7 linked regions of the Homo sapiens genome follow. The protein of the gene in region 2 interacts with the protein of the main gene of each other region in a biochemical or structural test. Each region holds a gene or a part of one and is shown on either strand. Other genes may lie near its edges. The genes, in order: NCBP2L, PDLIM1, SLC5A12, TRMT13, SLC22A3, ZSCAN30 and PLCB1.

Region 1 (4,327 bases), on a different chromosome or scaffold from region 2:
CTTACCTAATCTATTCATGTGGAGGCTGCAATGAACACCTACCTGCTAAAGGTGTTAGAAGGGTCACCCCCAAGGTTAACATCCCCAAAGGTTAAAGAGAAGATAGAAAAGCAATCCAGTTGCCAGGGACCACAGATCACCAAGTTGATCTGTAAACACTGTGAGAGAATATTTCCTACCTAAAAAGTAGAGCTTGGTTGGAGTGGAAAGCTTTCCTTGACTCTTGCTACTGGAGAAAATTAGTCAGAGAGTCTAAAAATAGAAGAAAAACATGAAGAATGGCTCAAAATGATCAGTCAAAATCCTAAGAGGACGGAGGAGAGGAGGTGGCAAAATAAAGTAAATTATCTTCCAGGAAACAAACTTCACTGGGCTTTTGGAGTTGGCAGGACTCTGCAAAGAATCTTTTCAATGGTTGCCTTAAACTAATGCTGGGATTGTTTCAACTATGTGAAAGGAACAAGGATCTGGACTCTTTAAAAAGCCAGGCTACTTTCTGCTCCAGATGAAGGCAGTAGCTCTAAGAAAGGAAATTAGAAAGCGCTGGGACAGTAGTGTTACTACATGCCTTACCTTTATAAGACTGTTCCTAATGGGTGAGAGAGCTGAGAGCCATTGTTGAGGACTGGAACCCTGTGGCCAAATATCTACTTTGTGCCAAGAGAAATTCATGTCTGATTGAGACTGCCTAGTGCTCAGAGTGACAGAAGATGTTCATATGTATTTAACACCTGTATTTAAATGAGTAGTTAAACATAAACATGTCATGGAGGTGAGAGATGAGAAATTACTTAATGGGTACAATCTACACTGTTTGGGTGACGGTTACATTAAAAGCCCAGACTTCACCACTCTGCAATATATCCATGTACCAAAACTGCACTCGAACCCCTTAAATTTGTACAAATAAATAAATAAACAAACATAAGCTGAAACAGACTGGCAGAACTAAAGCGGAGACAATGGCCTGAGACAGGCTACAGGAGAAAAGAGGATAATAAGTGACTGTTTAGTGTAGAAGCTGATCTGGATTAAATTAGGAAGCAGGTGTTAATGGATGCTTGAATTTTTTTGTTTATCATTTGCACTATATGGCCTTACTGTTCAAAGTGTTGTCCGTGGGCCAGCAGGAGCAGCACACCTGGGAGCTTTTTAGAAATGCAGGATCTCAGGCCCCTCCCTAGATCTGCTGAATAATAATCTTCATTTTAACGAGTTTCAGGTGATTTGAGTGCACAGTACAGTTTGAGAAGCACTGACGTATGTGGTTTCTTAGTTGAACTTTTGCCTAACAAAATTCTCTGTCCCTTCCTCCTTCCTTCTCTCCCTTGTACCACCTCTCCTAGTTTCCCAATCTTAGTTTCCTTGTGATCTGGCACATAACTCTAATCATGGCTGATAGCCCCAAAAGTAGTGTTCCCAATATATCCAGATAAAGAAAAGAAAAGAAAAGAGTGGTCAGATATATATTGTAAAGCACAGGTTTGGGCAGTAGGAAACCATTGACTTGGCCTCTAATTGTGCTGTCTGTATAACTTTTGTCAAGTTCCTTGACCCTTCTGAGCCTCAGTCTGTAAAATAAGGGTCATTATAGTATTTACCTCATAGTGTTGTTGTGAGAATGAAATGAAATGAGGGGAAGGTATGTAAACTGCCTAACACAGCGCCTGACACACAGTAAGTGCTCAGTATGTGGTAGTCATTATTATTGAAAGCCATCAGTTCTGAAGTAAACTTAGAACTATGTTATGATTCCAGACTTTCAAAGTCCCCATGAGTCTTTCTGGAGAGCCTCCGGAAAGCCCTGTGTACCTCATCCAGTTCAGCTTTCTTGACTCCAGTACCAGCAGTCAAGCAAAAGTATTTCTTATTCCCTTGGATTGTCTTCTTGTTTTTGCTGAATTACCAAGATTTCCTACTTTGTCATTGCAAATGGCCCACATTTTTAGTACATTAAAGCTAAAAACATCTTTTGTGGGCTGGTCTGGAAATGTAGTTCAATTTATAACAATTTTTTTCTCCTATGGAAAAATGCATGTCACCTTCCAAACAATTGACTTGAGAGTGAACTTTGAGAGCTCAGCCTGTCTGCAGCTTGGAGGCTCCCTGTATGTCAATATATGGAGTGGTCACAAAGGCTAGGTAAACCAAGTCCAGAATTCCAGAGGTGGCTGAAAGACAATTGACAATGCTACAAGGAGTGGAAAGTAGGGCAAATGGATCAATCTGCGTGCACAGTATCAAGATTTAGAAAGCTAATACAGGAAGGGAGATATACCTCTGGAAGGATATTAAAAAATAGCCACAATGACAACACAAACCATTTTTTTTTTTACTATATTAGGTCAGGGGCCCCTAATCGGTAGCTTGGGATCTACAAACAATATCAAGGCCTTGCAAGCTAACTCTCCAACATGATCGCCCTTCTCCTGCCCTGCTCTCTGCAGTTTACCTGGATTCTCAGCTCAGAGAGGAAGACAGTAAGCAGCATCTCCCCAATCCTCTTCACTCCCACACCCTGGTAGCCAGCCCCCAGATTCAGTAAACTTCCCTCTACCTTTAATTTCCGTCTTCCCAGGGAGATCAAGGCATCAGGAATATACAACACAGTTTTTCCTTACAAAAAGGATGAGGACTCCTGTATTGGGTAAAATAAGATGACTGGTGAAAACAGGGCCCCCAGGATGGAGAGGGCTGGAAAGACAGTAAGAAAGGACCATGAAAAAGCAAAGGACTTTTGTGCCTTCTCCCTGAAGTTGTTAGCAAGAAAACCAATTGTATCTGGGGGAACTCTGGGTTAACATGGCAGCAAGATAACACAGTCTGATACCCACCATCTAGGAATGCCCATTAAAATATCCATGAAGCTTTGCAACAAAAAACTAAAACTTGCACTAGCTACGGAAAATAGGGGAAAAGGGACTGTTAATTGCTAATGGAGAAGGAATTTCTGCTAGCTGTTGTAGGGAGATGGGGTTGGACTGAGGAACATATTTATAATCTACATACACTCTACCCTCCTATCCAGAACAGCAAAAGTGCCCAACAAAGTTGGGGAAAGATTTTGATTCACTTCTACCAACTGTCCTTAGATTGGAAATACAGAGGCTCATCAGAAAACCAATGTCATCCCTTTACTATAAAGAAAATATTTTCAGAGGCAACAACAGCTCTGTTCCACTTCTTCTACCATCAATTCCTCTATTTTATTTTTTTCTCTTTCTTTCTTTCTCCTTCCTTCCTTCCTTTCTTTCTTTCCTTCTTTCTTTCTTTCCTTCCTTCCTTCCTTCCTTCCTTCTTTCTTTCCTTCCTTCTTTCTTTTGTTTGTTTTTGAGACAAGGTCTCATTCTGTGGCCCAGGCTGGAGTGCAGTGGCACAATCACAGCTCACTACAGCCTCAACCTCCCAGGCTCAAGCAATCTTCCCACCTCAGCCTCCTGAGTAGCTGAAACCACAGGTGCATGCCACCACACCTGGCTATTTTTTTTTTTTTTTTTTTTTTTGTGGAGATGGGGTTTTGCCATGTTGCCCAGGCTGGTCTTGAACTCCTGAGCTTAAGTGATCCACCCGCCTCAGCTTCCCAAAGTGTTGGAATTACAGGCGTGAGCCACCGCATCTGCCCAGCTCCTCTATTTCCTATATGCTTTGTGGAGACCACAACTTGAGAACACCATGTGGCTGGTGATGGTGGTAGCGGTGGTTGGGGCCAGAGATTGTTATGGTTGGGGCCAGAGATTGTTATCGGGAAAAGTTCTGAACATAAGCATGCTTGCAGACATTATATCTGAAAAAATGTAATGTGTAACATGTAATTTCATATTACATATATAAATATGTAATATGTAATTTCATGTAATATGAAATAATGTAACATGTAACAAATTGCAGAGTTGAATGACCCAAAAGATCAGAGATGGAAGATTCCATCTATCTCAGTCCAGCCAAACCTAAAAATAATGATAGCAGCAACAATAACACTATCAACTGCCACCAGTTGCTGGGCAATTATTATATGCCAGACACTATATTAAGTACTTAACATGTCATGCATTATCTTACATACTCCTCATAGTAAACATAACTTGCCATTCAAGTTTGTTTGAAAAGGTCAGGTAACAATAATGACATCTACCACATATTGAGTTGTGACTATGTGGTAGGTACCAAGTGTTATACATCCACCATCTCATTAGATGAATGCCTACTAGGCACTAAAAATGGGCTTGGATAAGTACTTTGTCCTTCTCAATTCATCCTTCAAGCCATCATCTCCTCTAGGAAGCCTTCCTTTACCCTTCCAATCTGTGTTTGGTATGCCCACTCTTTG
Region 2 (4,327 bases):
TTTCAAGAATGCATCTGGTTTGTACATAAAAGGAATATCTCTACCCTCATCTGAATACTGACTGGTCTTTCCAGAAAGCAGGCAGATTCAGGGCTTGCCTTTTAGAAGGGATGATGTAATTGTTTGGGCTTTGTATTTATCAGTCTCCAAGGAAACTCAATAATGAGGAAGTACAAACTAGGTGTGTAACTATGCTGACCTCAGATAAGCTGGGGTGTTGGTTGGCATTACATGAACCAACAGATCTTTTTATTATAGATGAACTCTGCTCTTACTCATTTATCCTCTACTTTAGAATGGCTGGAAGTAAAAGACTGGAAAAATGATGGGTGAGAAGTTTTTCTTACAGTAATAAAGCATTACTAGAATCACAAGAAAAATACAAGGGTTTAAAGTATTTGAGAATTTTTGTAATCTGAAGAGAACTACCTTCAAAAGATTAATACAGGTAACTACAGATTTAAAATGAAAATTCAAATATACTACAAATGAAAACTATAACTGAAATTTACATAATTACCTTATTTACATGAAAATGAGGATTTCAGATAGACCAAGTTAAAACGAAATCATTCCTTGTGTGTTATAAAATATGTAAAAATTAAAATTTAACAATTAAAATTTAACATTTATGGTAAATTTAATGAAGTAGCTGAGAACTCCCAAGGAAACTGAAACTAACTGTGGCATGTTTTAAATTAGTTTGCACAACTGCCAGTGTATAGACCAAGTGCCATTTTACGAACTTTCCTGAGAGGAGTTGTATAGAAGAATATGTTCACATCAGTTTTGAAATGATGCAAAATGATCCTTAAAATGACTCTTGGGATTTTTAATAATTATTTTTACTATCTTAATGGCAAAAATTTTATGTGACTTCGTTTTTGAAATTTTAATGGATTCTATTTGAGAAAATATGACTTATATCCAACCACCCAATTAACACACACTAATATACCAAGTGAGTTCAACTTCATACAAGTTTCTGTTTTATGTATAAAAGATAGCTAGCTATATATTGTATTTTAATTACATCTTAATTCACCATAAAAACTAAATAGTATCCCAAATTTAGAAAAATAAGTTAAATTTCAAATCTTCAACTTGGGTCAAATGCATAACCATCACAAACCAGTGTAAAATTTTCAAAAGGCATTATCAACATACCTAGTTTATCATTACTAATTCATTAATGTATCCAACAGACACATACTTTGAGACAAGTAGCATGTTGGGTGTGAGGAATTTTACAAAAGATGTTCTAAACATCTCTAAGTTTGTCCCTTATTTCAAAAACAATACCCATGCCTTGTAGATTATTTAGAAGAGGCACATAAGGCAGAAAGAAATAAAATCACCTACAATCCAATAATCCAACTACTGAGAGATTTATTCACAAATATGGGATCTTAGGGCAGTCTACTGTCCTGAGAAATTCTATCTGGGTGACAAATTGTACACTATGTACTGCTTTTTTTTATATTAATTGCTGCTTTATTTTAGTAATTTTAAAGTCTCACTAGAAGTTTCACTGTAACAAAAATAGAGATTTCCACTCCATGGCTCATGGAAACCAGACAGGGGCATACAGTGGGGAGAAGCAGGGCTTCCTATTACATATTCCCCGATTTCTTCTAGGCTCTAGGCCTCCAGACCTAAACTTATTTTCATCCCTGTCATGATTCATTTGTTGCTGAAATCCATAACGAGCTGAATAGCTCCTTGACTTCACTGTGATCCTGCCAACCCTTCCCACGCAGGAAGGCTTCCACCGGCTTCCCTTATCGCCTTCCGACCCCCTGCTTCCAGCCCAGGACACAGCGTCACTGCCCTGGGGTTTTCCAGCCCTATCCTCCTGCAGTTCCCTTACGGGAAGAACTGAACAAGAGCCAGATACCAGCAGAGACAGTGAAGGGTCTTATCCCCAGGCCTCCAGGGCAGGAAAAACAGGAATGTGCTGAGCAGTGTCAGAAACGGCAAAGTGCTGGGTGGTGAGAGCAGCGGCAACGATGAGCAAGAACTTACCTGGGGTTCAGAGGCTAAATTCATCTTGTATGGATGACGCTTCCCTTCCTCCGTCACCAGAGGAGACCAGACTTTATGTTCAGATCTGCAACAGATTAACAAAGCTGCTGTTTCACTCATGTAAAATAAATAATATATACCAAAGACAAACTGGAAAAATGCCCCCTCTTTCCTGGACTAGGCACTGAACTAGCACCCTCCCATCAGCTCTACCTTCCATTTGCCACCAGGTTGATCTTTTAAACACCCCAATCTGATAACATCCATGGCTGATGGCTCCCCAGCATAGCCCCAAGGGGCTTCCCAAGCACTTCATCCTCCCTCACCACACTCTGGGTAGCTGACACCAGCAGTGTGGTCTCCTCCATGTTCCTAAGCATGACTCACACTGCCCTATCTCTGCTCAGGATAGAATGGGCTTCTCCTCTATCTCAACCCAGTGTGTTTGGTCCAGACCAAATAACCAACTTATTTGTGAAGCCTGTTTGACCCAAATGAAAATAATGCCTCTTGGCCGGGCGTGGTGGCTCACGCCTGTAATCCCAGCACTTTGGGAGGCTGAGGTGGGGAAATCACTTGAGGTCTGGAGTTTGACATCAGCCTGGCCAACATGGTGAAACCCCATCTCCACTAAAAATACAAAAATTAGCCGGGTGTGGTGGCATACGCCTATAATCCCAGCTACTCGGGAGGCTGAGGCAGGAGACTTGCTTAAACCCAGGAGGCAGAGGTTGCAGTGAGCTGAGATAGCACCACTGCACTTCAGCCTGGGTGACAGAGTGAGACTCCATCCCAAAAAAAAAAAAAAAAGAGAAGAACGCCCCTCTTTTGCTCTTATAAACTATTTTCTTTGTACCAACCACAGAGCAATGATTTTACTTTAGTCTCAGTTTTCATTAGTGTCGTTGTTTCCTCTCTTGCAGGTAGAAAATATTTATACTTATCTTTATTTATTTTATTTATTTATTTTTTGAGACAGAGTCTCGCTCTGTCGCCCAGGCTGGAGTGCAATGAATGGCGTGATCTTGGCTCACTGCAACCTCCGCTTCCCAGGCTCAAGCGATTCTCCCAGCCCAGTCTCCCGAGTAGCTGAGATTACAGGCACCTGCCATCATCCCTAGCTAATTTTTTTGTGTTTTTGTAGAAACAGGGTTTCATCATGTTGGCCAGGCTGGTCTTGAACTCCTAACCTCAGGTGATCTACCCACCTCGGCCTCCCAAAGTGCTGGGATTACAGACTAGAGCCACCATACCTGGCCATACTTAACTTTATATTTGTCACAATGTCTATGCCAGATATACAAGATGTCCCTTTTCAACATGCCGGTAAACAAATAAAAAATCAATTAATCAATGAATGAATGAATGTCCTGAACTCGGGCTTGAAGGAGAGGATTTGGACAAAGATAGAAATGGAGATGAGAATGAAGGGCAGATGTGCTTTTGAGGGGGTAGTAATAACACAGTGTACCTCTCATGGGGTAGGTCTCTGAAGTGTACAAAATATTTTTATATACTCCCCCACACTCGATCCACCTGCCAGTCCTGTGCCACAAAGCAAAAAAAAAAAAGCAAAAAACATACTTCACAGATGAGAATCTAACCAAAGGCTCCATGACAAAGAGCTGTGGCAGCTAAGGTTAGTGAGATAACAGGTGATCAGAATGAAACATCTGAATTTGATGCAGTAGGAAACAGGGAGCCAACTGAGGGTTGAACCAAATCACTTCCGAAATCCTGCCTTTGCGGGACCCCTTCCAAGGCTAAATGAAAGAAGAATGGAAATTCTACCCTAATTACAGCTCCCAAGGTGCTACCCTCATTCATTCTTTTATCCCCAGCGCTCCTTGCTTGTCATGTACCTAAAGTTACACTCAGTACTCTGCTGCTAATGTGTTCAAGTTTTTCTCTGTTATTGCAATCTCCTGGCATGGTACCCACTGCTCAGCACAATGCAGTAGCAGCAGCATCCTAAGGACATTTTTTTTTTTGAGATGGAGTTTCGCTCTGTCGCCCAGGCTGGAGTGCAGTGACGCCATCTCAGCTCACTGCAAACTCTGCCTCCTGGGTTCAAGTGATTCTCCTGCCTCGGCCTCCCGAGTAGCTGGAACTACAGGTGCACGCTACCACACCTGGCTAATTTTTTAATTTTTAGTGGAGATAGGGTTTCACCATGTTGGCCAGGCTGGTCTCAAACTCCAGACCTCAAGTGATTTGTCTGCCTCGGCCTCCCAAAGTGCTGGGATTACAAAGAGAGCCACCGCACCTGGCCAGGACATTTTACTTACTCAAAATTTTGGTT
Region 3 (4,327 bases), on a different chromosome or scaffold from region 2:
GTCAGTGAGGAGTCAGCAGTCACAAATATCATAAGGTAGAAAACACTGAAATGTCTGTGGTGAAGACACCTTGGGTTCACATCTTGTGCCCTTGGGAAGACTATTTTCTGCCACTAAGCCATGATTTTCTCTTCTGAAAGTGGATGTTGTATGGATCAGATGGTGGGAAGTATGATAATGCCAGGTACAGAGCTAGGGCTATAGTAGGATTTAATGACTGCTGTGGTCTCTGAGGGTGCAACACCCATAGTTTATTGGCATTCCCTGTTCCAGTACATGTTGATGGCATCTAAATGTGCCTGAGATTATCTGCTTGAGAGTGTTCTGAGCCTTTGCACAGGGCCATAGGGCAGATCAGAAGGCTTGAGGGTGTTATCATTGGCACTCAGCCAATTACTAAATGGGGTTGGAACAAAATACCCTGGCTTTTTGCCTTTCAGTGAGGACAACCCTGAGACGCACTTTATATTGTCTCTTAGAGATCCCCAGTTGGATTGAACCCCAGTTGTTCACAGTGGTAACCTGCTCAAAATTACATTTTTAATTGGCATCTTTTTCTTCTGTTTCACGTTGCCACTTGTCTATCACTGCTTACTAGAATCACTTCCCCCAAATCAACTTGCATTCAAATCCTTGTTTCAGGATCTGCTTCTAGTAGAATGCAACTTAAGACAGAGACATTTCTAGTAAATATATTGCAAGTACAAATTTTGAAAATGCTTCTGTAATGAGGTGTGTTCTCTTTCTGAGAGGAACTCTTTTCTATCACATGAAGAACTCAGGTTAGCCTACAGGAGGATGAGACTAAAGGTAACAAGGACAAGCTGTCTCATTTGCATTCCCCTAGGCCAGCAAGCTGCTAGCCAACTAGCTACCTTATGGAAGTCACATAGATGGTCCCAAGTGAGACCAGCACAATTTTATGGGGCCCATCTGAGCCAGGCAAAATTGTTAATCTGCAGAATTGTGAAAAACTAAAATTGTTATTTTGAGACATTTATTTTGGAGTAGTATGCTACATAGCAATAGATAATCATGAATACAAAGATTGGCACTAGAAGTGGGGAGGTGTAACAAAAACCAAAAATATGTAGCATTAGCTTTGGTACTGGGTGGCACAAGGAAGTCTGGAAAACATAAGGGGCAACGAATCCTGAAAACCAGTAAAGCCACGAGGCTATTGCTATAGGGATCTTGAAAAAAATCAATGGTTTTCGCATTTCAGTTAAGTTCCACTCAACCCAGTAAAATTACAAAGACAGTACTAGGGAAAAGCTATATGAATAAAGACCTGATCAGAAATCAGCCTCCTTGAATTCCAGTTTGAGATTTGCTGGCATCTCACTCTGTGATCTGTGCTTCAGGATTCTCATCTGTGAAAGAAGAAAGACTACTGCAACTGCATAATTCTATATCTGAAAGAATTTATCCACTTTTCCTTTCAATGTATTCACTCATTCATTCAGTGGTCACCTTTGGTGTATATATAAGCTATTCCTATTGTCAAAAGTAAAAATACAACAGAGAAGTTGCATGCTTCATGCCTGCTTGTAAAAATACCTGAGGTGACATTTACCAACATTATGATGGATTATTTTCAGAACCCCAAACTTGATCCAGCCATACTCTTTTCCATCTCAGGAAATACCAACTCTACTTTTCAGGTTGGTTCGAGCCCAAATAACATAGAGCCAGCCTTTACTCCTCTCTCTCCCTCCCCACATCCAATTCATAAAAGAAATCTGGGTGCTTGCCCCCCACTTTCAAAACATATTTACTTGCATTCATCCTCTCTTACAACCCTATTACTATCATCTCTTGCTCAGATTATGTAAGGAAACTCCCAATTACCTCCCCGCTTCAGCAGTAAAAGCCCTAAAATTATTCTTAATATCTAGCTAGAGTAATCCTCTTAACATACAAATCCCATCATGTCACTTCCCTTCCCAAACACTGTAATGACCCATCATTTCTAGAGTAAAAGCTAATCCCTATGATGACCTAAAAGGCCCCATAACGTTGGTTCAGACCCTAAATATCTCTTTTACAACAAATATTATATAGCACCGTTCACTCTGCTGAAATAGTATTCAATAATATCTTATAGATAAACATTGAATTTCTCAAAATATAAATATAATTACTAACAATACCACCACTGTTATTTGAAGGAGAACTAAAAGGAAAGCATTTACCTAAAAAAAGTATGTAATGTATAAATGCTCAGAAACCACTGTACAAGAAAACACAGTGAAATAGTAGCCCGGGCATTATCATAAAGAAAATTTGAAATTGAAGAGAAGTAAGTAGTTCAGAAGCCAAGAAGTCCAAGAAATATGAGAGAACAGGTAGACATTGGCCTATAAGCCAATATTAAATTAGGTAAATAATAGCAAACTAGATTTATGAGTGTATGATAAGAGAAGGAAGGAAATAACTTTAAAGTGAAGATAATATTATGAGACTAATAACAAACTGTACAATTGAGATAATGAAAATATATGATATTGCAAACTAGCTAAGCCTAAATTATCACTTGAGGGTGAGAAGAATTCCCTATACATTGACTTGTGACAGGGTAGTGATAAAGTAGCACAGATGGCATATCTTAGTCTTGAAATCCCACTGCATATCAAGGCATTTAAATCAGTTGGCTATTGCTATATAACACTCGCCTCCAAACTCATTGGCTCAAAAACCAAAAATTTATTATTTCTCATAACTCTGAGGTCAGGCTGGGTGATCTCTCTGGTTTCATCAGGACTTTCATGTAGCTTCAGTAACTTGGAAGATCAATGGAGAGAGGTCTGACATGGCCTCACTCACAGGTCTGGTAACTTGTATTGGCTGTTGGCTAGGTGTCTCTGTTCTCTATGTGTCCACTGCTGCTCCTGAAGCTAGATCAGCTATGCCACCTTCCTTACATAGCAGTATCAGGGCAGCATTCCAAGAGGACAAAGGCAGAAGCTACAAGGCTCAGAAGGCCTAGGCTCCAAGCTCACAGAACATCACTTTGGCTACATTCTGCTGGTCAAAGCAAGTCACAAAACTGGCCAAAGTTCACAGGGTGGATAAAGAGACTCCACCTCTTTCAGTCTTTAGTATTTAAAAAGACCCTAGAAAGCATACCTTTCAATAACTACTAGAGAATGGAGGCTGAAGAAAGAAACAGAAACTCCAGATACTATAGACAGATTAAGTGGTATAAATTTGAAGATAGCAACAACAATGATCATAATAATGCAACACTCTTACATAGTATTTACTATTTGCCAGGCTCTGTTAAAAGTATTTGTATACAATAAATCATTTACTCCTCACAGACATCCTTTGAGATAGATGTTTTTATTACCACTATTTTACACATGTGAAAACCAGGTATATAAAAGTTAAGTAATTTACGCCAAGGTCATGCAGCTAGCAAGTGGCAGAGCTGACACTGAAAGCCAAGTCAACAGACTTTAGAGTCCATAGTCTTTTTTATTTTATTTTTTTAAAGACAGAGTCTCACTCTGTTGCCCAGGTTGGAGTGCAGTGGATCTCGGCAGTTCACTGCAACCTCCCAGGTTCAAGTGATTCTCGTGCCTCAGCCTCTCGAGTAGCTGGGATTACATGTGCGCCACCATGCCTGGCTAATTTTGTGTGTGTGTGTGTGTGTGTGTGTGTGTGTGTGTGTGTGTGTTGTTTAGTAGAGATGGAGTTTCTCCATGTTGGCCAGGCTGGTCTCGAACTCCTGACCTCAGGTGATCCACCCAACTCAGCCTCCCAAAATGCTGGGATTACAGACGTGAGCCACCACGCCTGGCCTAGAGTCCATACTTTTAACTTGCATGCCATAATGCCAATTTTTATAAAGCAAGAGGTAATCCCAAAATAACCTTATATCTACTTTACACACTCTGGATTACTTACTATTAGGTCACTAAAAAGTTGAAAATATGTAGAGGCAAAAATAGTAAATATTTTAAAAACAATTTAGTAAATTAAATTCAATGAAGTCCTTATATTTTCAATACTTGTACTAATTTATTAATTTAAAAAGAGAATCAAATCTCCTCAGTTACATAATTGCAATTGGTTTAGTTGTTTTTGCAGTAACTAGGCCATTTTACTAAAACCAGTTATGGCTAAGCATGTAATGAGCAGCACATATGGAATAGACAGATTGTTCAAAGTAAGTAAATTGTTCAATAATTTTAAGACAGTGTTTTTATTTCATTTAATTTCTGGAAAATGTGCTAATTTATAGTGTGTGTATAACTTTTTATTGTAAAGTTACTGTGCACTAAGGTAATACTAATATGTGCAGTAGTTTTTGAGCATTACG
Region 4 (4,327 bases), on a different chromosome or scaffold from region 2:
GACAAATTAACAGTTAGGAAAACAATAATCCTGACCTAAGGCTGGCATGTTGAAGGACAAACTTATCTTCCTTTAAGGTACTTGATACCATTGTCAGAAACATACCATTAAGCTAAATGGGCCACAGAACTGTTTCTGTATGATAATTCTTGGGTGTGTATGTATATTTTATCAAACATAAATGAGATTATGCCTGTTGTAGAATATTGTTTATTTCTGGGCATAAATTGTTGAATGATGCAAAACAAATTTTATGACACAAATTAGTATTGCTTGACACAATAAAAAAAGGTTAATTATTTAATGATATATCTTCATTTAGGTTCCCTTGATTGGGGACATGGGTAACTAACTTAAACAAACTACCTTACTTGACATAAAACTTATAACAAGGGAAAAAAGTTAACAACTTAAAGAGATAATAAAATCAAAGCCTATTATGTTATTAAAAAGATTCACGAGTTACTACCACTACTATTACTAGTTAATATTTATTGAATTACTCTGTGCTTGGAACTGTTCTATGCATTTTACTTGTGTTATCTCATTTGATGCTCACAACAACCTTGTGAGGTAGGTATTATTGTTATCATCATCATCCCCATTTTAAAAGGAGGAAATTGAGGCACAAAGAGATTAGGTAGCATGCCCAAGGTCGCACAACTGAAGATGGTAGGTTTGGAATTTGAACCGAGACAGTCTGACAAGATATATGAGACTAAAGTCAGGAATTTTAAATTGGTTAGGCTTCTTATTTACAAATCATATAATCATAGAACTACAGGATAAAAATAGTTATTTCAGAATATCATAATATCTAAAATTAGTAATTCTGAACCTTTGTCTTGGCAAATGTACCATCAATTAAGACAATTTTTACAAATAAAGGCAGAAACAAAATAGGGATAAGATGCAGAAGAGAATAACAGTCCTACCATATATTTGGTTTAGTATTTTCTTGTGCATAGAAACCAGTCATGAGTTAAATAAGGCCTAAATTTGAGAAGGTTTTTGGTTTCATTATCTAATTTCTATTTTATTCCAAATTATTTTCCCAAACAGAAGAGAACATACTTATTGTTTGTGCCTACATATATAAAAAATGACCTGATAAAAGATATGAGATAGCTAATCAACTTCAGAAATTATTTCAAATTTGTGAATTATGTTTGTAAGTATCTTTTTGGAAGTTCTAACTAGACAATTATCCAACAAAATAATTAAGTGAAATAATCTTTTTTCTTTGAAAACAGCTCTTCAGTTTTGTGTTTGTCATGGACAGATTCTGACAATATATACATGTATGGCTCTGGAAATTTGAAGGTGACTTCATTAATTAATTGTGTTTATTAATTGTGAATATCTCTGAATTGTCTGCATTTGAGAAAATCACAATTGTGCTTTCCAGATCTGTAGGGAAAAATGTCCACATATAAGTCAAATTCTCAGATTGGCCCTTGTTACAATCAATCACTACCTCTTGAACTTAAGAAATAAAAAATATTAAATAAAATCAAAGGAAGATAAATTTCCAAAATTAATACAAACAGAAATACGCTAATTATGTGTTGACATGTTATGTATGTTTCAGATCACCAAGTCAACGGTTCAACTACTTTACCAATCTCCATAAATACGGATGGATAATATAATTCAAGATGCCCTTCTAAAGAGGATTACTTTGGTGAATTCTCTAATGTTTGGATTTCTGAAGTAAAAAGAAAAGCTATTACCAAAGTTTAATGAGGCCACAGCATTTTTTAAAGTTCATATTATTTGCTATTTAAAGTATATATTTTTTTGATATAAAAATATAATTAAAAAATTTTTTTTGGTGGAAGACAGATGATGCTCAAATTTCTTTTCCATTAAGCAGTTGTTTCTGGTGATGAAGAATGATTTGGTAAAGCAGTTAACAAAACATTTTCCAAAGACACCAGAGGGTCTGTATAGTACTGCAAAGCAGGACTGAATCCCTTCTGCTGCAAATACTGGATTCGACCTTGGTCAATCAGCAATTTACAAAGATGCCCTATTTTCTTCTTTTCTTCAACACTAAGAAGCCTAAATTGAATAAACACACACAAAACATTGTTAAAATTTTGCAAAAGTTTATAAAAAATTATTTTTGTCACTATTTATTGAGAGACTGTTAACTAACCCATAATGTACTAAGTACTTTGTCCCATGCTTCCAAGACACATTATATTTATGACCACAATAAAAGATGTGTATATTTTAGCTTATTCTAAAATTAGATTATAAAATACATTTTCATGAATTGTTGATAATAGTCATCTAAAGTACAGTACAATATAATATTTCTCCTTTAGTATCATGCATTACAAAAGTAGTCTCTTACCCAGGCAAACAATCAGCGCCATCATCTGTGATTCTGTATCCTCCATCATCATGCTCTTCACTATCATCATTCTGATTATCTTGCCTCTTTGTGGTACTATTTGAGGTTTCCAAAGATGTTTTCCGCATCCCACAAGTTGCCCAACTACTCATTCGCTGGAAATAATGGAATTCCACTGCTCCAAGGCCTAGAGCCCTGAAATATTCTTTGCCCACATAATGTCTCCAATCACACCTGTGGTGACAACAGAGTGCAATAACAATGCCAGCCACAGGGTTCCACTTCTCTGGGACATTTTTTTCATTTCCTTCCTTGGCCAAAGTGTAAATTTCTTTTTCTGTTTTATCATTCTTTATGCGTTTGGCTAAAGGTTCTTCATTCCTTTCCTCAAAACTGGCAGCATAGGTTTCAACCAAACATCGTAATGCAAGATCTGCAAACACAATTATGTGGCCCCCCCAAACCACATCATCTTTAAAAATAAATACTTTTTACATTTATTAAGCAGTACTGTTTTTAAAAACTCAACAATAAAAACAGCAAAAACCTACTCAGCTTTATATTTGTAATAATACTATCATGAATTATCAACTTCATTCAAATTTGCTCTTCTATCTTCTCAATTTCTTTAATGATTTATTCTGCATAAAGCCTACTTCCCAATAAAGCTATCTGAAGCTTAAGATCTACAATTTGAAGAACTTTTACCCAACTACCTGAATTGTCTCTCACTTTTCCTACCTTAGCTGAGGAAATGACTTGTATGGGAAAACTTTATTCACCTACACTTACATTCTAGTTTAAGAAAGGAAAAATGAAGGAAGGAAGGAAGGGAGGGAGGAAGGGCAGACAAATCTGTTTAGGTTGATGCTAGGTCAAGATGCTTGTCTTGAAGAGGCTCATAGCAAATAGTGATGAACTGAAGAGTTGAAAAGAGGGCGTCAGAACAGAATCTGGAAAGCAGGCCTCACTGAGTAGCCTTACTGTATTTATTCATTTATTTAACAAACATTTACTGAATGCCTTTCATGTGCAAAGCACTGAGGATACAATTATTAATATACACAAACTTAAGAGGCAGATGTACTCCACATTACAATGAAAATATTTTAGTATATTTTAAAACTAAATAAATGGATTTTTGATGACTATGGCTATTTCCCATCGAAAACTCCTACACTGTTGACAATACTGGAAAGACCCAAAATGTAGGACCCATATCTTCTTAATCATTAGATTGTCATGTTGTGTCTGTTCAATCAAAAACATATACATATTTTAAAATTTTATTACCCTAAGATATCACAAATGACTATTAAATGATCTGATATTTCACTAGTAAATTTAATTCAATATATGAATTTAAGTCAACAAACATTAGAAACCCATTATTTGCAGAAAGTGATAGCTAATCTATTATTTCATAAACTATTATTTTCTGACAAAATACATTTAGTCATTGTTTTATTCATATTTGACTTAAGTAAGTGATTTTCAGAAATGTGAATAACCAGATAAATTATTAAAAGAATTAAGTTATTTCAGGCCAGGCGCAGTAGCTCACGCCGGCTGAGGTGGGCAGATCACGAGGTCAGGAGATGGAGACCTTCCTGGCTAACACGGTGAAATCCCGTCTCTACTAAAAATACAAAAATTAGCCGGGCGTGGTGGCACGAGTCTGTAGTCCCAGCAATTCGGGAGGCTGAGGCAGGAGAATCGCTTGAAGCCGGGAGGCGGAGGTTGCAGTGAGCCGAGATTGCGCCACTGCACTCCAGTCTGGGCGACAGAGCGAGACTCCGTCTCGAAGAAAAAAAAAAAAGAATTAAGTTATTTCAGAATTAGAAGGAGCTTTAGCAATTTATCTCAATTCATCTTTTATAAAGAACTTAAAAGACAAAGCCACATATGCAGAAAGGGACAAGGAAACACAGCAAATTGGTAGCCAAGATTATTCATTCATTCAAA
Region 5 (5,119 bases), on a different chromosome or scaffold from region 2:
AGTTTATAAAAATACACTGGATACATAATGTTAGCTGAAGATGGAACTACAGTTCCTTTCATCAGACAGAATTTGAAAGAAAAAAATTAGTTGAACCAAAGACAGCAAAATATTAGCTATGCAGAATTCAGAGAGTTGCTGACTTGTTTTGGATAGTTGAACTTTATGAATAGATGGGGGTTTTCCTCTTAAGAAACCAAACATGAAAAACAAACCAAAAGAAGCACAAAACTATTTGGAATTTAAAAAGAGGCTGGGCGCGGTGGCTCACACCTGTAATCCCAGCACTTTGGGAAGCCAAGGCGGGCGGATCACGAGGTCAGGAGATCGAGACCATCCTGGCTAACACAGTGAAACCCCGCCTCTACTAAAAATACAAAAAATTAGCCGGGCATGGTGGCAGTCGCCTGTAGTCCCAGCTATTCGGGAGGCTGAGGCAGGAGAATGGCAGGAACCTGGGAGGCGGAGCTTGCAGTAAGCCGAGATCACGCCACTGCACACCAGCCTGGGCGACAGAGAGAGACTCCGTCTCAAAGAAAACAAAACAAAACAAAACAAAAAAGAATCTCTCCAATATATTTCAAAAACTTTTTTGGGGCTTTACGGGGTACATTCCTAATATCATTCTACTTTCTTAAAGACTTTTTAATCATTGTTCTGGGCACACCAAACAGTAACCAGGTGGTGACCCTGATGGCATTTGGAGCATTGTAACGGGCTGAATCCAATGGCTAATTTTACAGAGGAAAAATACAAGCCCAGAGAAGGCGAGTAACTCACCCAAGCCACACAGCCAGCTGGAGACCGAGCCAGCCCCTGACCCTCCATCATTCCACACTGCATTTTAGTAGCCACTGATCTTCATAAAATCACCTTATTGTAACCCCGGGATGCTAGTAACCCTGCAACTCCAGAATGCTTCCAAAGTATCCGTCAGAGCATTAAATTACAGATTTTTATGTCTGTCTTCTTTGATGTCCATGGATCATACTCACTCATGCAAACCTCGCTTGAGCACTTGTTGAGGCTCGTTTTATTCTTCATCTTTAAATGTCTCCAAAAATCAGCTGTCTGCCCTCCATGTGGGTCCTCTGGTTCACTTGGGAAGTAAGCATTAGGCAGCGCTGCTGAGTGGAGTGGAAGAAGCCACCTAACAGATGCGACTCACAGAGATAATGCCCTCTCTCATCCAAGTCCATGCCCTGTCCTTTCAACTGTGAAATCTCTAACCAGACCATCACCAATTATAAAGCAGTCCCCAGCCTTACCATGGATTAAGTAGAAATTAAAGATCCCAACACACATATGTATTGCCTGGCTGTCTTGCCAGGGGGGTTTATCCTGAGATCACTCAGCATAGAGCCACTCAGTGTGCGAACACACTTGCATGTGGCATTATAGAAACACCCTGAACACACATACACATTGCCTGGCTGTCCTGCCAGGGGGTTTTATCCCTGGAGCACTTAGCATAGAGCCATCCACTGTGCGAACACAGCAGCACACGGCGTTACAGAAAGATCCCAAACACATACACACATCGCCTGGCTGTCCTGCCATGGGTTTTATCCCTGGAGCACATAGCATAGAGCCATCCACTGTGCGAACACACCAGCACATGGCGTATAAAACATGTACAATTGCAACCACCGACACTCCCAACTGCAGCGAGATAAGCTCACCAGACCAACAGCAACAGCGGCAGAAAGGGCGCTCCTACCTCCTCATCCAGTGTTTTCCCCACTCTTCAAGTAGGTGATTTTTTAAAGTTTATCACAAAAAAAAGACAAACCTTTTTTCCTAATGTACCTGATCACATTCAATCTTTTTTTAAAATTAACTTAAGCTGTGATTGTAGACAAAGCTCAGTAAAACTGCTCATCTCTGCAACCCATGCTCAATTGAGGCCGTTTCTGAGTTCCGATTATTACAAAGTGACTCTGCTCTATATCTGGACCTCACAGAGAGGCAATCTTCCATTTCAGCAAGGATGCAGAAACAGATTACTGAGGGCAAGGGTGAAGGAAGCTCCCCTAACTTCCAAATGCACTGACTGCCCAAAATGTGGGGATCGCCCCCGCCCACCCGCCGGCAGCAGCCTCCGCCTGTAAATGGGTTGGGGATTTGCGTTGGAAGGCTGTGGCCCTCCCGCTATGTTCCTAAAATTTATTACCAGAAAAAAAAACTAAAATTTATCCAATACTTCAGTTTTCCCAACTTATCCCAGATGTTGCTCTTTGCCCCAAAGCAATTTTACCAAAACCATTCCCCGGGAAAGCCTCGACCTTTGTCCCCTTGCATTTTGAGTAACCATTTGGGCAACTGGAAAAAAGCTGCTGCTGCCTTCAAACGTTGGTTCGCCCTTTCCTTTGACCCTGGAGACCATAAGCGAATCCGGAACTGCCAACGTCGCTCACCCCAGAGACTGAAGTTCCCTATCGCGCACCTAACCATAATTTCCAATGACGGCGCCCGCACACCTCAAAGATAAGGAACGCGGTGCTGGGTCTTTGACTCCTGAGCAGGCGTGCGCCAGGCGTTTACAACTCGGCTTCGAAGAAAGTTTTTGTTCACACCCGAAACCAAAGTATCTGTGCATTAACTCACGGGCTCAGGCAGATAACGAAAGGCTTTTCCCAGCATTTACGACGCGGCACTTCCAAGGGTGCGCTGAATCCTGTCTGTCCCCAGAGGTAGCCGACCGGTCCCCGTCTCCACCGACCTCCCCTGGCGGCCAGCGTCTCACACGCGGCTTGTCCGCCTGGGAGCCAGCATCGTCCTCTCCCGCCGGCTTCCAAAGGGCCGGGGCGCCCTTACCTCGCTGACGATGGTGGAGTGGGCCTGGGCGTAGCGCCAGCCGCCGCGGCACGGCACAAGGGGAGCCGAGCGGTTGGGGAAGGCGGCGAGTGGGTCCGCGCAGCTGAGAGCGCTAGTGGCGGAGGCGCTGTCGTTGGCCGCCTCCAGGAGGTAGCGCTGGCAGCGGCCGCGGCGCTCGGGGGGCTCTGGGCCGCGGGAGGCGGGCGCCGTGCGGTTCCACTCCTCCTCCGGGCTCCAGCCGCAGCGCTCGGCCAGCGCCGCGGCACTTGGCCCGCGGCACCAGTAGTGGTCGGGCTGCGTGCCCAGGAAGACCACGCCGACGAAGAGGAAGGCGAAGGTGACGCCCGTCAGGCACAGCAGCAAAAACACGCGCCTCTGGAAGCGCCCGAACTCGCCCACCCGCTGCAGCGCCTCGTCGAAGGAGGGCATGGTGCGCCCGCCGCCCGCCGCCCGCAGCCCGCGCCTCGGAGTGACCCGCGGACCCAGCCGGCGGCCTCTCTTTACTCCGCCGCCTCCCCCGCGCCACCCGCCTCACTCGCCCTGGCGCTGTGCCGGCCGCAGCCGCTCCTCCTGCCCCCCGCGGCCCCCGCCTCTCTTCCCCGGGCGCCCGCAGCAGCCCCGGGCCACAGGTCGCGGGAGGGACGGCCGCGAGCCGGACGCACCCGGCCGGGGTGGGCGCGCGGTGGGGCTCGGGCGGTGCGGCCTGACTACGCGCCAGGGACCCGGCCGGGACCGCGAGTGACGGGCGCAGCCTCCGGCCTGGCGCGGAGCTCCTTTTGGTCCCTGCCAGCAGCCTGCTCTGCAGTCAGCCCCAGGTCGGGCTCCAGAAGAAGAAAGTTCCAGGGTCACCCGACCACTCCCGGAACTTCTGGGACCCGATCTCTCAGCGGCCCGGAGTGCAGCCCGGGGACTAAGGACGCGCGCGCGCGCCCCGGGTCCGGTGCCTGTGCCCGGGAGAGCCCCCTCCAGCCCTTGGCCCTTGCGCGTGCGGAGGCCTCCTGCGCCCATGTGGGGCAGGGCAGGGCAGGGCAGGGCAGGGCAGGGCAGGGCAGGGCAGGGCTGCCCGTTCCCAGCACAGCGCTGGCCATCGCCCTCGACCCATCGAGAGCTACAACTTGGGATTTGATCACCCAACTTTCCCCAGAGGGCAGCCGGGCAACCCACACAGGCGAAGGGGCTTGCTCAGCGTCCAGGAGGTTTGGGGTGAGAAGGGATCGCCTCAAGGCCAGGCCTGATGCAGACCTCCTTCGCCAGGGCCTTCCCACCCACCTTCGGTCTGAACGCCAGGGAAGGGTGTTGGTGGTTGGTTTGAATCCTGGTTTTTCCGCTTACTTATTGCGCCTGCCAATTCGGCAGAGCGCGATCAGAACTTCCCGCCCAGGCTGCCCAGGCTGCTGGGTCCATGCTGGGACGCCTTCCCCGGGCTGGGTCGCGGTCCCCCCACGCCCCCACGTTATCGGCCCACGTTCTGCCTTTAGCTCACTTTTCTCCAAGGCCTTGGGAGGACTTGCGGTTCCTCCTCCGGAACAAGGAGTTTGAAGCCAGGCTGCTTGGATTCAAACTGGCCTCATGTCCTCACCAGCAGTTTCAACTGCCCGCTGGACCCCAGACTCAGTCTGTCCCCCTCCAACCCAGCTCCCCTTTCCTGCCCTGCCTTTCGGTGCAACCATGTCCTGGGCCCAGACTCAGAACCTCAGTATGGCGGGGACACCACTCACTCCTCAGGCCTGTACTCTTAGGTCATCTCGGCTTGGAACCCCTTTTGCCAATGTTGGAGCTCAGAAAACAATACGCCAAAATGAAGGCCTCAGAAGCAGTCTCTGTGTCATCTTCTGCCCTCCTGTCTCTCGGTCCCATTCTCCCCCAGGCTAGCCATCGAAACCAGAACGCTTTTCCCCAAAGCCAGTCATAAAACAAAAATATCACTGTGATTTTCCCTCACTTGTCTGTGTAAAAACTGGCCATAAAGAAATCAACTGTTCTACCTTGTTGATTGCAGTCCTAAGACCTCCCATTCCACAGAAGAACCTGCCCCTTACCCAGAAGGAAAAAAAGGCTGCTCAGAGAGGCCAAGAAGAATCTAGAGCCACCGGCCTCGCTGGGTTTCCTCACTCAGTATCAGCATCAGATCACACCCTTTTGGTCCAATCCTATTTCGACAGGGCTCTCCATGTTTTGTTGAACCTAAGCATAAAACTAGGCAATTTCCCCTGTATCTTTGGGCCTTCCTTCTGAAGGCCCCCATGTACACCTTAAATAAATAAGTACACCTTTTCTTCTAGCCATCTGCCTCTTGTCAGTG
Region 6 (4,327 bases), on a different chromosome or scaffold from region 2:
CACTTTGGAAGGCTGAGGCAGGCGGATCACCTGAAGTCAGGAGTTTGAGACCAGCCTGGTCAACATGGTGAGACCCCGTCTCTACTAAAAAAAAAAAAATACAAAAATTAGATAGATGTGGTGGCACGCACCTGTAGCCCCAGCTACACCAGAAGCTGAGGCACAAGAATAGCTTGAACCCAGGAGGTGGAGGTTGCAATGAGATGAGATCATGCCACTGTGTCACAGGATACTTGGGGTGTTGCTTTTCTAGTCAGAAACCTCTGTGGCCAGTGGTGCCTTTGCCTGAGTTTTGCTTGGGCCCACTGGGATCGTTCTGCCCACTCAGCCTGGCAGGCTGTGCTTGGCTAATGCTACCAGCCTGTATCTCGCCCCTGCCAAGGGTGAGCCAGGCGTGAAGTAGCAAGGGATGTGTGAGCGAAAGAGTGTGGGGTCTGGCCACTGCACACAGTCAGGCACGCTGGCTGCTGCAGCAGGGTGGGCAGCTCCAGGTGCCAGTACGGGCCCTGGCTCACTGCAAGGCTGTGACTGGACTAAGTACACCACAGTGGTGCCCAGAAGCTTGGAGACTCCAGGAAATGCAGGGCCCCAACGGGAGTCACAATCCTGGCTCAGGGAGCTTCCTGGTCTGGGCTTCCTGAAGGGCCACAGCTCTTCTCTCCTCTTTGCCTGCAATGTGGTGAGCAAGGGGCATGTTTCAGCTCTGTTTGTGTTACAGCTCTTTCAGCCCCACCATTCAGCAGGTCTCAAGTTCTTGTCCTGCATCCAGATAGAATGAGGTATGTAGACAAGTGGAGGCTGAGCAAAGTGAAGAGGAGCTTTACTGAGAAGGAGGAGCTTTACTGAGCAACAGAATAGCTCAGAGGAGACCCTGGAGTGGGTAGCTCCTCTCTGCAGGCAGCTTGTCCCATCATCGCTGCAGCTGTCAGCAAAGAGGAGGCCCTGAAGTGGGTAGCTCCTCTCTGCAGGTTGGTCCTCCTGTTGTCTCTGCAGCTCTCAGCAGAAAAGAGGCCCTGGAGTAGGTAGCTCCTCTCTGCTGGCAGGTCTTCTCCCCCAGTCTGGCTGAGTCCAGGGAATTTTATGGGCCTCAGAGAGGAAGAAGTGCATGCTGATTGGTCCATTGGTGGCCATGGGCAGGTCCAAGAAAAAGCACCACCAGTTCCCCCTCCAGTCAGGGGGACTGGTGGCCTGGCCATTAGGCTTCAGGCCTTCTGGGGACCCGCCCCTTTCTGCCTCAGAGCATGTCGCCTCCTACTGCTTTCTATGGTGCCCAGGCTGTTCGTGGGGACAAGCACCTGCAGGCAAATGCTGAACTGCCTTCAGCCTTCCCTCAGCCTCCCTTCTATGTTTGTCAGCACCCAAAGTCTGGAGGGGGCTGAAGCAGCAGAGGAATGGCCTGTCAGCACTGCCTCAAGTATGCGCACAACTGGCTGGGCTGCAACAGCACCCTGGCTCGGCCCCAACCTTGCTCCTAGATCAGAGCAGTCACCAGGAGCAGGGAGAGGCCAGGCAGCAGAAGCAGATACCTCCAAGCCTGCTGAGGTGGGGGTGCCTTCCCAGGCCCCTAGAGTGCAGAGATATCCAGGTTGGTCCGCAGCCACAACCTGGGTGGCTACAGCTGCACAAAGGAGGTGGGGGATGCAGGAAGGGCTCATGCCTGCTCCAGCACTCCTGCCTGCTTTGGCACTCCTGCCTGCTCCCAGCCTCCAAGAACACGGTCTGTAGCAAGGACTTGGGTGGCTGCAGTTGCACCCAGGAGAGCAGGGCTCCTGCCTGCTCCTGGTCTCCAAGAACACAGGGAGGCTCAGCCAGCAGCCATGACTTGGGCAGCTGCAGCTATGCCTGGGGAGCTCCCACCCGCCAACTTGGAAGGAGCTGGGCTCCTGCTTGTCCCCGCTCCCTCTGGCTCTGTGAAGCTCACAGCATGGGCAGAGCCTCCTGGCTGCAGCCAGCATCTTGGCAGTGGCCACTCCAGATGGTCCAGATGGCCCACTGTTGCCATCAACAACACTCCAGCCTGGGCAACAGAGTGAGAGACTCCATCTCAAAAAAAGAGAAAAAGGAAAAGGAATAACAATCCTAAACATTTATGCAAATTGTGAGCTTCAAAATACATAAAATTAAAACTGATAGAATCACAAGGAGAATAGACAAAACCACAATTATTGACAGAGAATTCAATACTCATCTTTCAATAATTACTTTTAAAATTAGTAGAAAATCAGCAAAGTATATAGTAAACTTCAGTAATACCATTAACCAACTAACAATAATCAAATAGTCAACCCAACAGCAGCAGAATATATTAATATATCCTTCTCAAATGTGCATGGAACATTTATGAAGACAGACCATGTTTTGGGCCATTAATGAGTCTCAATAGATTTTAAAGGATTCAAGTCATACACAGTATGTTCTTTGACTACAATAAAATTAAATTAGAAATAAATATCAGAAAAATCTCTAGAAACCCCCCAAATATTTAGAAACTGAAATAATCCAAGTTCAAAGTATTCTGAACTGAATGAAAATAAAAAGACAACACATCAGAATTTGTGAGATGCTGCTAAGGCAGTACTTAGGGGAAAATTTATAGCACCAAATTTCTATAACACAAAATAAGAAATATTACAAATCAGAGGCCTCAACTTCCACTTAAAGTAACCAGAAAAAAAAAAGCAAGTTAAACCCAAAGCAAGGAGAAAAAAGGAAATAATAAGGAACAGAGTGGACATTAATAGACCAGAAAATGAAAGACAATTTTTAAATAAATGAAAAGCTGGTTCTCTGTAAAGATAAAAATGACAAAGCTCTGGCCTATCCGACAAGGGGAAATGGGAGAAGATACAAATTACTAATAGCAAGAATGAAAGAGGTAACATCACTGCAGATTCAACAGATACAAAAAGGACAAAGTAATATTATAAACAACTTTATGCCAACTTATACAAAATTGGCTGATTCTTTAAATGATACAAAATACTAAAGCTTACCCTATAAGAAATATATAACCTGAATAGCACCATATCTATTAAAGAAACTGAATTTGTAATTTAAAACCTTCCCACAAAAAAACTCTAGGTCCAGATAGGTTCACTGTGAATTCTGCCAAATATTTAAGGAAGAAATAATACCAATTCTGTACAAACTCTTCAACAATACTGAAGACAATGGGATGCTTTTTGAATCATTCTTTGAGGCCCACGTTACCTTGATCCCAAAACTAGACAACGACATTACAAGAAAACTATAGGCCAATATTCTTCATGAAAAATCCAACAATATATAAAAAGGATAATACATCACAGTGAAGCAGGGTTTTTTACAGGAATGCAGGTTTGGTTTAATGTTCAAAAATCAATCATTGTAAATCACCATATTAACAAACTGTCTTCTCAAAAGATACAGAAAAGGCAATTGACAAAATCCATCCTACATTCCTGATATAAATTCTCACCAAACTAGAATTAGAAAAAAACTTCCTCAGTCTGTTAAAGGGTACCAATAAAAAAAACCACAGCTAACATCATGCTTAACAGAGAAAGGATGCTTAAGATTAAAAAAAAAGACAAAGATCTTCACTTAAGATTGGAAAAAAGACAAAGATTTCCCCTTTCTTCATTTCTACCGAACACTGATATACATAAAGATCAATTTTACTTCTTCTTTTCCAATCTGAATGCCTTTCTCCACCTCCCTTTGCCTGCCTTACTGCGCTGAAAATAAGAAAGGCATCCAGATTGGAAAGGAAGGAGTAAAACTGATCTCATATGTAGAATATCTGATAGAATCTACAAAAACAGCTACTAGAACTAATAAATGAATTTAACAAAGTTGCAAGATACAAGATTAATATACAAAAATCAATTGTATTTCTCTATTATATTACCAACAAACAATCTGAAATTAAAGGAAAAATACAATAGCATCAAAATATATTAAATACTTAGGAATAGATCTGTCAAAAGTTATGAAAGATCTGTAAAATATTAAAAAGAACTATAAAATATTGGTGAGAGATATTAAGGAAGACCTAAATAAATTGAGAAAAATATTGTGTTCATGGATCAGATGACTCAATATTGCTTTAACATGTCAATTCTCCCCATATTGATCTACAGATTCAATCCAATCCCAATCAAAATCTCAGATAGCTTCTTTGTAGAAGTTGACAAACTGATTCAGAAATTGATATGGAAATGCAATGGGCTTAGAATAACCAAAACAACAAAATTAGAGGTCTCACACTACCTGATTTCAAGCCTTATTATAAAGCTAGAGTAATTAAGTGTGGTGTTGGACTAAAGAGACAAGTAGATCAATGAAA
Region 7 (4,327 bases), on a different chromosome or scaffold from region 2:
ACAAGGTTTGCTTGCTATCATTCAACGGATAGAGTTGTGTTAGGAAATAGGTGTGAATGAAAGGCCTGTTAATGATACTCACTTCCAAACTTCAAAGAGAACATTTTTACTGAGTACAGAAATTATTTTTGAAAAAATGTTGAAAGACATGCACAATAATGATGAAAGTACACATTCAAAAGCTACAGGACAAAACCCTTTCAAAGAATTATATAACGTCTGTTGATAAAGATTTTAATCGAAACAATAAAAAAACAGGCAATTGAGACAGAAAAATAGAAGAAAAGATAAATCAGAGTCTCAGGCTACTTTTTTTTAACCCTGATTGTCCTAGAGTTTATATTTTAATTATTTTAAAATCTTATAACTGATGTATAACAGGCGTACAGAAAAGTACACGTCGTAAGTCCACAGTGCAAAGAATTTTCACCAAATAAACGTGTCTGAGTAAATGATATCCAGATCAAGAAACAAAATATAACCAATCTCTAGAAGGCTCTTGGGCTCCCTGCTGGTTGCTTTTCTTCCAAGGGAACCCATTATCCTGACTTCTAATAAATAGCATAAATTAGTTTTGCCTGTTTTTGTGTGTTATATAGGTTAAATCATACAGTATGTAGTTTTTGTGTACCTGACTTCCTTTGCTCAATATTATGTTTATTTATAGTGATTCATCCATAGTTTTCATTTAGTTATAGATTATTCTCATGGCTGCATATTCTTTCTTTGTGTGAATATACCATAATTCATTTATCTGTTGACGAGTATTTGGTGTCCAGTATTTGGCTATTCTGAATACCTCTGCTTTAAGCAATTCTTGTACGTGTCTCTTGGTAAACCTAAATACACATCTTTAGCAAGCATATACCTAGGAATGGAACTCCCGAGGTACAGGGAGTGCATATATTCAGCTTTTGTAGACACTGCTAAGTAGTTTTCCAATTGATTGTTCCTATGTTTAACTTATAACTGAAAAACTTCCTACAGTCAAGCTTAAAAGTTTCTTCCACTTAATCACCCTGCAATCAGGAGATGTCTATAATGCGATTTTCAGATTGCCAAGCTTCTGACTGAACTTGGAAGATAAATCAGACTAAATGACAAATAATCCCAAGGAAATGAGTGCCACTGAATTCTTTTCTCATCAACCACAGCAATCTATTTCACCCTTAATTTAAAAGGAAAAGAAATGATATTAGGCATCCTCTAGGAGCTTCAAAAGATAATTTAAGTAATTTTGCCATGTCACAGATTTTAAAAAGTTCTTTAAAACATGAAAAAATTGAAATGCCCAGAACTCTTCAGCATATCATCAATGACAATGCATCCAGTGCTCAGTTCTATAGTTAATATTTCCCATTATGAAGCTTAAAGTCATATGGTCACTCTGAAGACTATTTGGCTTACATGGTAGCCAGAATAATGACCTCCCAGAGATGTCTCTGCTCCATGAATATGTTAGCTTGCATGATAAAAGGGACATTGCAGGTGAGATGGAGTTAAAGACCTTGACATGGGAGCAATTATCCTGGATTATCTGGATGGATCCAATGTAATGACTTGAGTTCTTGCCAGCAGAGGACATTTCCTGCCTGTGGTCAGAGGGAGATGTGACCACAGGAGAAAGGTTAGTGAAATGCAGCCTTGCTGGCTTTGAAGCTGGAAGGAGCCCCAAGCCAACGAATGTGGGTGGCCTCTAGAAGCTGGAAAAAGCAAGGAAACAGCTTCTCCCTTAGCGCCTCCAGGAAGGAACACAGCCCGGCTGACACCTGGAGTGTAGCCCAGTGAAACCCAGGGGGCTTCCTGACTTACAGGACTAGAGGATAATACATTTGTGCTGGTTTAAGCCGCTAAGTTTGTAGCAGCAAGAGAAAACCAGTAGTTCAAAACTGTGCAGAAATAGGAATGTTCAAAGTCCTTCTAAGCTAATTTCAGAGCAGCAAATTCTTTTTTTTTTGAGACGGAGTCTCACTCTGTCACCAGGCTGGAGTGCAGTGGCTGGATCTTGTCTTACTGCAACATCTGCCTCCTAGGTTCAAGCGATTCTCCTGCCTCAGCCTCCCGAGTAGCTGGGACTACAGGTACGTGCCACTATGCCCAGATAATTTTTGTATTTTTGCAAGAGACAGGATTTCACCATGTTGGCCACCAAAGACACGGGGTTTCACCATGTTGGCCAGGATGGTCTCGAACTCCTGACCTCATAATCCACCTGCCTCAGCCTCCAAAAGTAGTAGTATTACAGGCATGAGCCACCACGCACAGCCCAGAGCAGCAATTCTTAAACCAACACAAAACATGACGGGGAGAGCCCACCAGCCCCTCACCGGCTCCTGGGGATGAGGGCTCGAACATGCTGGAGGAGTCACTGTAGGTGTTGGAGGCTTGTTCTGAGAGCTTCTTTTTGCCGCTTCCTTCTGATGACTTGTGTGATTTCTTCTTATTTTTCACCAAAATTTTATACATTAAATCCATAGGGCTTGGAAGAGGAACTCCAGATTCCAGCTAATAGAAATGAAAGGCATATTCTTTAAAAATACTGCTCCCTCTTTCAGATCCCCTCCCCAGACCCCCAGATCAGCTGTGGATACCAAATGTCTAGACTTCTTCCCTACCTTCAACACTGCTCATTAAACTCTTAGTGTATCTTACATGGGAGCTAATTTTTTTTTATATCAAAGATATATTTTCATTACTATACTTTTTTTTTCAACATATTCTACATGAAGAAGACCATAGAAATGTACTGGTAGATTTGATGTACTAAATCTGAACATTTATGAATTTTCCAATGGAACATAGAAACCCAATCATCTTGATTTAGGACAGATAAGAAGGCCCTGGCCTGAATTTTTGAAGGAGGGAAGCCAGGCATCTGCCAGGAGGAGTTGGTAAAGACGGGCAGAAGCTTCCAGGTGAGCCCATGAAATCATTTTTTCAGATGCCCCTTAAAATCAGCAAAATCCCCATCCTGGTACTAGGTAGTTTAGCTGCACGTCCCTGGCATCAACAGAAGTGGATGAGGTGGCTTCAGATTTCCTCCCAGCCCTAAGATTCAAGCTACCACATTTGCAAGCCTTATTTTGACTGTTTCAAGTTTGTACATCTAACGGGAAAATCAATTTCCCATGAGGGGGTCATTAGATATTGTATCAGAGAGCATGTGTGCAAGCCACAAGATAGGTTACTTTAAGAAAATCTATAGAATGCCTAAGTTAGTCCTCTATTCTTGGCTTGCAATGAGCGGAGGGACTGGTATAAACTCACTTACAAATGCATGGAGATTGGGCAAAAGGGTGCGGGAAGGAAAATGCTACTTTAGGATATTTCTGCTGCTTTCCTTCCCAAAGCAGAGATATCATCAATGCAATGGGCGACCTGAGTTGTGCCACACCAAAAGGTGCATCCAAGGAAATAGAGAACAGCCAGCAGGGACAGGCCAAGAAGACATTGTGCCACCTGCAGTGTCCTGTTTTGCCAATCCATTCATCTCAAAGAGGTGTGACGAGGTTCCCTGGGAGTGAGCAGAGGCCTGTCCTCTTGGACTGTCTCTATGGGCTGATTGTAATTGTTGGGAAATCTGCACTCTTGATTGAGTTTCATCAGGCAGCCAGCGAGAGAGAAGAGTGTGGGAAGAGGAAGAGTGCAGAGGCATTCCTCTACCCTTAGTGGGGCCCATTGCTGGTATCCTCCTTGTCAAAGATTTCATCACCAACTGCATTAATCTTACCAAGAAACATAAATATGAAAAGGAAGTAAGTTTTCCCTCAACCTCATTCATCAATAATGCATACATTCCTTCAAGGACAAACATCAGAACTGCTTACTGGATATTTTTCCAGGGGCTCCATGAGAAGGGCATCCCCAAAGATCAGTCGGCAGTACTCCGCCATCTTGGCTTGCTGCTTTGGGCTAAGGGAGAACAAGAACAGAAGAAGGAAAGTAGGGAGGCTTATCCAAAGAACCTGAACAGGATTGCTTTGTGTTATTAACTACAGAAAGAAGTAATTCTCTAATCCCACCCATCAGGATTGGTTTTTATCATCCTGGATCTTTATCTTAACTTATGTGAATTTGAATAACATACACAGATGGACAGCGAAGGCACTGATGTGTGAGGTGGTTCCCAAGGCAGACCTGCATAGACATAGGTGGAGGGGACAGCATGTCATTTGCTGTAACTGGAGCCTTGAAATTCCCAGAGTTAGAGGCTCAGTCCCTTTTGTTTAACTCGCTGATTCCAAGTCAATTGCAAGACACTTGGAGAAAGAACCCTTTCATATTTCCATGTAAATTATCAAGTGAAATTTGTAAACCACTGCTGCAA

Evidence for each region.
Region 1: the proteins of PDLIM1 (region 2) and NCBP2L interact in a test that uses a peptide from one of them, tested with the Homo sapiens proteins (one large-scale study listed by IntAct).
Region 3: the proteins of PDLIM1 (region 2) and SLC5A12 interact in a test that uses a peptide from one of them, tested with the Homo sapiens proteins (one large-scale study listed by IntAct).
Region 4: the proteins of PDLIM1 (region 2) and TRMT13 interact in a test that uses a peptide from one of them, tested with the Homo sapiens proteins (one large-scale study listed by IntAct).
Region 5: the proteins of PDLIM1 (region 2) and SLC22A3 interact in a test that uses a peptide from one of them, tested with the Homo sapiens proteins (one large-scale study listed by IntAct).
Region 6: the proteins of PDLIM1 (region 2) and ZSCAN30 interact in a test that uses a peptide from one of them, tested with the Homo sapiens proteins (one large-scale study listed by IntAct).
Region 7: the proteins of PDLIM1 (region 2) and PLCB1 interact in a test that uses a peptide from one of them, tested with the Homo sapiens proteins (one large-scale study listed by IntAct).

What each region holds. Positions count from the first base shown.
Region 1 is NC_000023.11:107,783,984-107,788,310, reverse strand, and holds part of NCBP2L (nuclear cap-binding protein subunit 2-like), read right to left. Parts: intron 1-4,327.
Region 2 is NC_000010.11:95,266,753-95,271,079, forward strand, and holds part of PDLIM1 (PDZ and LIM domain protein 1), read right to left. Parts: intron 2,111-4,327; coding exon 2,026-2,110; intron 1-2,025. UniProt on the Homo sapiens protein: Cytoskeletal protein that may act as an adapter that brings other proteins (like kinases) to the cytoskeleton. Involved in assembly, disassembly and directioning of stress fibers in fibroblasts.
Region 3 is NC_000011.10:26,714,982-26,719,308, forward strand, and holds part of SLC5A12 (sodium-coupled monocarboxylate transporter 2), read right to left. Parts: intron 1,374-4,327; exon of another isoform or gene 1,292-1,373; intron 1-1,291. UniProt on the Homo sapiens protein: Acts as an electroneutral and low-affinity sodium (Na(+))-dependent sodium-coupled solute transporter.
Region 4 is NC_000001.11:100,146,362-100,150,688, reverse strand, and holds the end of TRMT13 (tRNA:m(4)X modification enzyme TRM13 homolog), read right to left. Parts: intron 4,163-4,327; coding exon of another isoform or gene 4,017-4,162; exon of another isoform or gene 2,796-4,016; coding exon 2,363-2,795; exon of another isoform or gene 2,065-2,362; coding exon 1,869-2,064; 3' UTR 1,648-1,868; coding exon of another isoform or gene 1,592-1,647; 3' UTR 1,322-1,591; coding exon of another isoform or gene 1,254-1,321; 3' UTR 193-1,253; downstream 1-192. Other genes in the region: LRRC39 (leucine-rich repeat-containing protein 39), read left to right, coding at 1,254-1,321. UniProt on the Homo sapiens protein: tRNA methylase which 2'-O-methylates cytidine(4) in tRNA(Pro) and tRNA(Gly)(GCC), and adenosine(4) in tRNA(His).
Region 5 is NC_000006.12:160,346,547-160,351,665, reverse strand, and holds the start of SLC22A3 (solute carrier family 22 member 3), read right to left. Parts: upstream 3,289-5,119; 5' UTR 3,247-3,288; coding exon 2,818-3,246; exon of another isoform or gene 2,644-2,817; coding exon of another isoform or gene 2,608-2,643; intron 2,587-2,607; exon of another isoform or gene 2,481-2,586; intron 2,009-2,480; exon of another isoform or gene 996-2,008; intron 1-995.
Region 6 is NC_000018.10:35,283,135-35,287,461, forward strand, and holds part of ZSCAN30 (zinc finger and SCAN domain-containing protein 30), read right to left. Parts: intron 1-4,327. UniProt on the Homo sapiens protein: May be involved in transcriptional regulation.
Region 7 is NC_000020.11:8,715,849-8,720,175, reverse strand, and holds part of PLCB1 (1-phosphatidylinositol 4,5-bisphosphate phosphodiesterase beta-1), read right to left. Parts: intron 3,913-4,327; coding exon 3,828-3,912; intron 2,506-3,827; coding exon 2,328-2,505; intron 1-2,327.